2 linked regions of the Homo sapiens genome follow. The protein of the gene in region 2 purifies or fractionates together with the protein of the main gene of each other region. This does not show direct contact. Each region holds a gene or a part of one and is shown on either strand. Other genes may lie near its edges.

Region 1 (3,825 bases), on a different chromosome or scaffold from region 2:
TAATTTTTGTATTTTTAGTAGAGACGGGTTTCACCGTGTTGACCAAGCTGGTCTTGAACTCCTGACCTCAGGTGATCCGCCTGCCTCAGCCTCCCAAAGTGCTGGGATTATAGAAGTGAGCCACCACACCCGCCCAGCCTACATGTACCAATTTTAAACAGCCAAAAAGCTAACTACGGTAAATAACTACAGTAAATATAGGCCCAAGCCAATATTTTAGAGATAGAAGGAACAGACACCCAGTCCAACATTTGTTTTCTCATTTACATTTACCTACATAATGTCTAAAACAAGAAATCCATAAACTACATCAGTAACATGCAACACTTTCCATTTATATCATCTTTATGTACTAAAAACACTCCATGAATATTAAAGATTGGTATTATCAAAATCATCCAATAGACCAAAATCTAGAGAAGTGGTATGTTTACATACAAACCAAGTCAAACAACAGTAGTTCAAAAGAAAAAACCATACTAATAATTTACCAATTGTATGGGATATTGTCTGCACTGTTAAAAATCCTAAAATTGATTTAATTCTAGTTTTGTTAACATAGCTATCCTTCTGAGAGGATCCTTATTATCTTCGTAGCTGTAGGGCAAATCTCAAAGAAGTCTAGAGCTGATATCAGTGTTCCATATCCTCACATCCAAACTACTCACACTCAGCAAAAAAAATAAATTGTGAGGAGCTAATGGACAAAAAGACAGAAACCATATATACATCTCCTTTCAGACTTTAAAGTATTTTCAGAAAACAGATTTTCAAATCATGCAATCCCTGTCAGATGTCCAATTTATACAGCTGATGTGAAATTTATTTGAAGCAATCCAATAATTCCCAGCCTTTCAACAAATCTTTACGGTCCCCTATGACCTAGCACTGAACTCATCACTGGCACACATACCAACTCGATCCTTGAGAAGCCTGACTTGGAAGGTGAGAAAAAACAAATACTAAAATAATAATCAACAGTAATAAACAAATAAATATACAAACAAATAATGACAAAGAATGACCATCCTATGAGGAAGAAAGGAATAGGAAGAAAAGGGGAAGAGATACCTAAATGGCCAGCCAGCAAGCCCTCTCCAAAGAGGGAACATTTAGGCTGAAATGAGTGGCAAGTGCTGGAATGTGAGCTACTCCCGAGGAGAAAGAGTGGTACACGGAGAGGATCTCCTGGATGCAGTGGGTTAGGGGAGAGGAATCCCAGAGAAAACCCACATGTCTGGGACCAGGTCCTTGGGGGCCTTGATCCAAAGTTCCTTTCCCATCAACACTTCTTTTCACTTTCTACTATCTGGATCAGAATTGACAGTTTTTACATAAGGTCTAAGGCATACAAAAGGATTTTTATCTTTCTTATGCAAATTGTCCAAGAATTACTTATCACCACGGGTATGTCTTAGTGTGAATGAGTGACTGATGTAGTTTGGATATTTGTCCCTTCAGAACCTCATGTTGAAATCTGATCCCCAGTATTGGAGGTGGGACCCTGTAGGAAGTATTTGGGTCATGGGGGTGGATCTCTCATGAATAACCGATTTGGTGCTGTCCACACAGTAATAACTGAGTTCTTGCTCTATTTGTTCACATGACAGCAGGTTGTTTAAAAGAGTATGGACCTCTCTCTCGCCTGCTCCCTCTCTTGCCCTGTGACACAAATGCTCCTCGTTTGCCTCTCGCCATGACTGGAAACTTCCTGAAGCACTAGCCAGAGGCAGGTCCCAGTGCCATGCTTCTTGTACAGCCTGCAGAACCATAAGCCAAATAAACCTCTCTTCTTTATAAATTACTCAGCCTCAGGTTTATACCAATGCATAATAGACTAATGCAGTGACAATGTAAATAACACACATATATTTGTGTTAAGTTCTTATGAGCACCATCCTCCTTGATTTCTACAACAATCCTACGAAAAACAGACTGTTCTCATCTCCATTTTATATTCCAAGAAGCAGGGTTACCAAAGAAATGTTACGTGCCTTCAAACCCTATACTCAACTACTATGGGCTAATGGGGGCTTAAATATGGGTAAGACATAGTCCTTGACCTCAAACAGCTGATATTCTAGTGTAGCAGAAGAGAGCAGATGAATTTAAAAAATAATTAGAAGATTTGTTAAAGTCATAACCGTGGCTTAAATAAAACATTACAAAAGTTCAAAGGAAGAAAAATTATTCCCAGATGGGGAGACAAAAGTTTCGACCAGTGTTTTTGATGGTAGTAGCATAGTAGCATCTTATCTGACAGCTTAAATTACCAAAAGAAAGGCATTTCAATTAGAGGAAACTGTAAGCAGAACACAGAAGTGGAGGGGTAAAGTCCACTCAGCAAACAAATCGGTTTTACAGCTCTGGAGCTTACAGCAAAATAGAATGGCAGACCAGCTTCTGGTATGAAACCAGCCTCTTGGGTTCACACTCTGCCCCCTCATAGATCTCTGATCTTGTACAAGCTACTTAATCTTCCTGAAATGACATTAGTTTAGCCATAAAATAAGAATACTACTATCTAACTTATAGGTTTGTCATCAGGATAAAATGAAATTATGTGTGTAAAATATAGTGTTTATTGCTAGCATATATAATACACTCAATTACTCAATAAATAATCTTTATTACTGAATGTTACCAACAAGAAAAGAAACAAAGACAAGACTTTGAGGATACTGTTAATGTTAGAAATGCAAAATGCTCGTTCCCTGGTGCTGCAAAGAAATAGCACTCGAACATAAATTTAATTTTCTCAGCAAGGCAATTTTTACTTCTATAGAAGGGTGCGACTGGCAAATGGAGTAATGGAGAGAGCACACCTGCACAGGGGAGGGGAAGGAGTTCTTATTTCTGACACAGGGCCCTACTAGTGTGTCGTTCCCCTATTGACAATGGTTGGACCACACAGTCTAAGCTAATTCCGACTGGCTATTTTAAAGGGAGCAGGCATATGAGCCAGAGTGGCAGGGTGACTAGTCTAGCAGGAAGGACAGTTAGGAACAGGTAACTAAAGATGACTTAGGTCAAAGCAGGTGACCAGGGGTGACTCAGGTCAAAGAAGGTGACCAGGGGTGAGTCAGGATGGAGCAGGTGACCAGCGAACAGATGTGAAATACTGATTAGGACTGGTGGGAAAGTTGTTTACTGAAACCAGAGGCAAGGGGGAGAAGAGAACCAGGAAGTTAAACTTTAAAATGGAGAATCGAAGAAGAAGAGAGCTGAACACACTGACATACTGATTCTTTGAGGAAAAACTTGGGGTTCACTATATTTAACATTAATAAGAGACAAGTTAAGGAGAAAAATTAGCTTGGGGAAGGGAGCTAAGTAAGTAGTTTCGTTTTATATACGTTGAGTTTTCAGCTCCATGGGGTATTCAATTATAGCACTTAAAATGTACTGGAATTTGTTTCCATTGTCTTTTCCTCATTAGAATTAGGCATTTAAAAGTGATGTGGAAATGGCAGAGATGGTTTAGGAGCAGAGCATTAATAGAAATTTAGACCAATGATGGAACTTTAAACATTTGCCTATAGTTAGGGGTCAGGAAGCAGAAAAGGAGAAAGAAGACCAAACAAACAAACAAACAACAACAAATGTAGGAAGAAACTAAATGAATTCAATGTCCCAAAACCTCTTTACAAGGGAAAGGAATTTCAAGACTTGGCAGCATGTGTGTGGTACACAAGTGTGTATACAACATTTACATACTTTTTGTAAAATGTATTTACGCATTTTTTAAAAATAAAAAATTAAACTTCATCTTTAAAATATAAAAATATTATGATTTTCAAAATTAAGCAAGCATTTACTAAAAGT
Region 2 (3,825 bases):
CTGGAATTTATTAAAAATATGGACTCTCATGCCCACCCCAGACCTTTTGAATTAGAATGCACATTTTAACCAGCTCCCCAGCTCATTCATGTGTGCATTCAAGTGTGAGAGGCACTTGTTTAGGGAGCTAGTCTGGGTTCTTACCTACCAAGCATAACACTGTTCCTTTGACAAAATGTACACCAAACTCTGAATAAGAAATGTATTAGGAACTGCTTTTATCCCTTGCACACAATTCCAAAACAAATTGGGAACACAGTGTCATACAGCCTCAACCATGTATCCAGTACACAGCAAAAACTGTGAGATAAAGATGCTGTTAATGAAAACATCAGTGAGCCACTGAATCCCTCAATGCGTCCAGTGTGCTTTCAGTGAACCAGCACCCAGAAACAGTGAGCTCTGGGGTTGGCAGCACCATGACAGACCACACATGGTATAAAGGAAGCTCTTAAATGGTGAATAAGTCTGTGTTGGAGATCCCCTGGGGTCTGGAGTAGGCGGGAAAAATCAGAGTTTCTGCGTCTGGGCTCCATTCCCAGGCAGATCTCAGAGCCAGGGCTTTCAAAACAGATCTGTGGCCCTGGGCCAGCTGACAACCAGCAGCGCATTTGCGTCCTAAAAGCACACTGGGGAATTCGCAAGCAGAGGCCCCGGGCCTCCCCGCTCCCATGCAGGTGAAGTAAAAATGGAAGGAACAAACCATCTAGGAAACAAGATTAGGGCCTTGCTCTGCCAGCTGAAACCATTAAAATGCAGGGCCAGCAGGACAGAGCTAGAAGCAGGGCCAGGACCTCTGCCCAGGGAAGGGTGGTCACAGTGAAGGAAGCAGGCATACCCCTGAGGTTACCATAATCAGAGTCTTCCCAATGAAAAGGAGTGGGCTCTTCATCCAACTGCTGCTCAAAATACTCTCATCATTAGCAGAGGGGGCAGTAATACAGCAGCAGCTTCTGCTCATCAATGGTTCATATGCCTGGCAGAACTGAGCACAGCAAGGCAGGTAATTCAATCTCATTTCACAGATGAAAAATAAAGATGAGGCTCCAAGAGATTAACAGCTTTGTTCCAGGCCACACTGCTATAAATGACAGAGTCAAGACTTAGAACCAAGCCCATTGACTTCCAAAGCTCACACTCATTACACTATGCCCCAGTGGTACAAGCAAATGCACCCAGGTCAGTCCCAGGCCCATTCATTCTACAGGTGAGGAGGCTAAGACCAGACAGCACTAAAGTGACCTGGCCAAGGTCCCACAGCTGGGCCAGAACAAGTGATACTTCCCCTCCTTCCTCAGGAACAAGGATGGTTATGGGATAATGGAGGAACAAAATGTTCAGGCAAATCTCAGACGGCTATAAATATTCAGGTTTAGAAGTCGAATGAGATGAGGGTAGCTTGGTTAACTATAGCCAAAGTGCCAATGCAAAGACTGGTCAACCATATACAGTTTGTCACTTGTGCTCACAGCTAAACCCTCCAAGTCTTCTGAAGCATCCACAAGTGACTGGAAGGGACTTCTCTGACATGCCAAGTTGACCTACCTAGTTCATGATAAAATTACCAGAATACCTTCCTTACTAGCTGCCAGCTAATCTGCTTACCCAAAATGTGTAAAACACATTTTCCATATTGCAGGTTTTTTCTCTCCCTTTCTCCTCTCAATTTTGTTTTTGCCTTTATTTAACTCTGTCTCCCAACTGACTTCCTCATATATGATAAAACAACGTGCGTGAAATAGCAAATGAATGTCTCCAAGTTATTCTTTGATACGGACCCAGTGATTTCACTAAAGTATCTTCAAGGCTGTGCCAAAGTCCTTCCAAGCAAAACTTGCTGTGTGGCTCTAAAGGAAGGCCTGTCTGCTAGGTGTTCTCCTGTATCACCCCCTCCCATAGGTCTGTCTGCACGTAAAGAATGATCAACCACACCTACTGCACCTCTGTTGCCTCTTTCACACTGGTCAAGCCATCCGTGTCTGGCCTCAAGACCTCCTGGTCCCTTATCACCTCTTTTTCTACCTCATCTACCCTCTGCTCCAACCTTGTAGCCACTCATGTCCCACAAAATGCATCCTCCACATTCCTGCCATGGTACCCTACGGGAGCTTGGATGTCCTTCCTCCACCTAAAAGGGTCTTCTACCTCCTAGCTCCCCTGGCAGCAAGATTCACCCTCTCCTCTGGATTCCTCTCTAGCTTTTTTCTTTTTTTTTCATTTCCCCCTTGGTCTCTTACATGAAATAACAATCTCCTGAGGACAGGAATCATGCCTTATCAATCTGAGCTAGTAAATGTGTTTTCAATGCCTGAGATCTTCAGGAAATAAAAAAAGCAGAAAAAGTTCCTACCCTCAGAGAGTTCAAACTGATTACAGATCTGACATGTTGGTATGGAAAAATCTACAATCCAATAGAAGTCTTGGAGAAAGGAACAAGGGAGAGTAACTCCTCAGTGAGTATATAGTTTCCTTCTGGGATTGATGAAAATGTTTGGAAATAGATAGAAATGATGGTTGGACAACATTTTAAACATACTCTGCCACTGAATTGTACACTTTAAAATAATTAATTTTATGTTACATGACTTTAACCTAAATACAAATCATGAATACAGGTTAAAAAAATAGAAATCAGATCTAGTACAGATACATAGTACAGATATATAAAATTCTGTAATAAAATCATGTCATGGTAGATCTTGTTTTTGCCTTGTTTCTTCACTCCATTTTTAATTCCCTCATATGCAAGAAAATATTCACTGAAAATAACTAACTGAACATCTGTAAGTTATCCTTTGACAGGAAACAGATGGTTTCATTCAAGAAAGAACAGAAGAGTTCCAAAAGCTTAGGCACTGAAAACAATGTGTCAGGTCCTCAAAAAGCTAAATATAGAGTTACCCTATGACCCAGCAGTTCCATCCTAGGTATATGCCCAAGAGAACTGTCCACACAAAAACTTGTATCCAATGCTCGTAGCAGCATTACTCATAGTAGCTAAAAAGAGGTAACAACCCAAGTGAGCATCAACTGATGAATGGATAAACCAAATGTGGTCTATTGAAACAATGCAGTGTCATTCAATCATAAACAGGAATAAAGTACTGAGACATGTTATAATATGGGTGAACTTTGGACACATTTTGTGACAACAGGCACAAATGGCCACATCGTTTATGATTCCACTTATATACAACTTATAATAGGTAAATCCATAAAAACAGAAAGTAGATTAGTGGTTGCCAGAGATTGGGGGGAGGAGGAAATGGGAAATGACTGCTAACTGGCATAAGGTTTATTTTGGGAAGGATAAAAATATTCTGGAATTAGATAGTGATAATGGCTATATCACTTTGTGAATTACACTAAAAACCACAAAACTGTATACTTTAAAAGGGTAAATTTTACGGCATGTAAATTAGATTTCCATTTAAAAAATTTTTTTTAAAACAAAATAAAAAATCACTAAGGCTCCAACTAAAGACTGAGAGCATCAAACCCTCTGTGTTTCCCTCTCTGAACTCTCATGTGGGTGAAGGCTTCTAGACATGTAGATTTTCCGAAGGCCAACTGGTCTCCTTCCTTATCAGTCCCCAAACATGCAGGAGGCACACAAAGACCTTGAGGTGGTGGTGGTCACAGGAAGGTCTACTGGTACACATCACCTTCTCCAATCATTCCTAGCACAGCATTTTGTGCGTCATCTCACCCAGTGGTGTTCAAATTATGCTCCTGGGTTTTCCCAGGGCTGATGGGTTTCCTGGGACATGGGGATGTCAGTGCTAAACTTAGGAAAGGCATAGGCAACCTGGACAACTGGTCACC

The links.
Region 1: the proteins of FRMD3 (region 2) and LMBR1 purify together in Homo sapiens (affinity purification with mass spectrometry; one large-scale study listed by BioGRID and IntAct). This does not show direct contact.

What each region holds. Positions count from the first base shown.
Region 1 is NC_000007.14:156,756,981-156,760,805, forward strand, and holds part of LMBR1 (limb region 1 protein homolog), read right to left. Parts: intron 1-3,825. UniProt on the Homo sapiens protein: Putative membrane receptor.
Region 2 is NC_000009.12:83,304,393-83,308,217, forward strand, and holds part of FRMD3 (FERM domain-containing protein 3), read right to left. Parts: intron 1-3,825. UniProt on the Homo sapiens protein: Putative tumor suppressor gene that may be implicated in the origin and progression of lung cancer.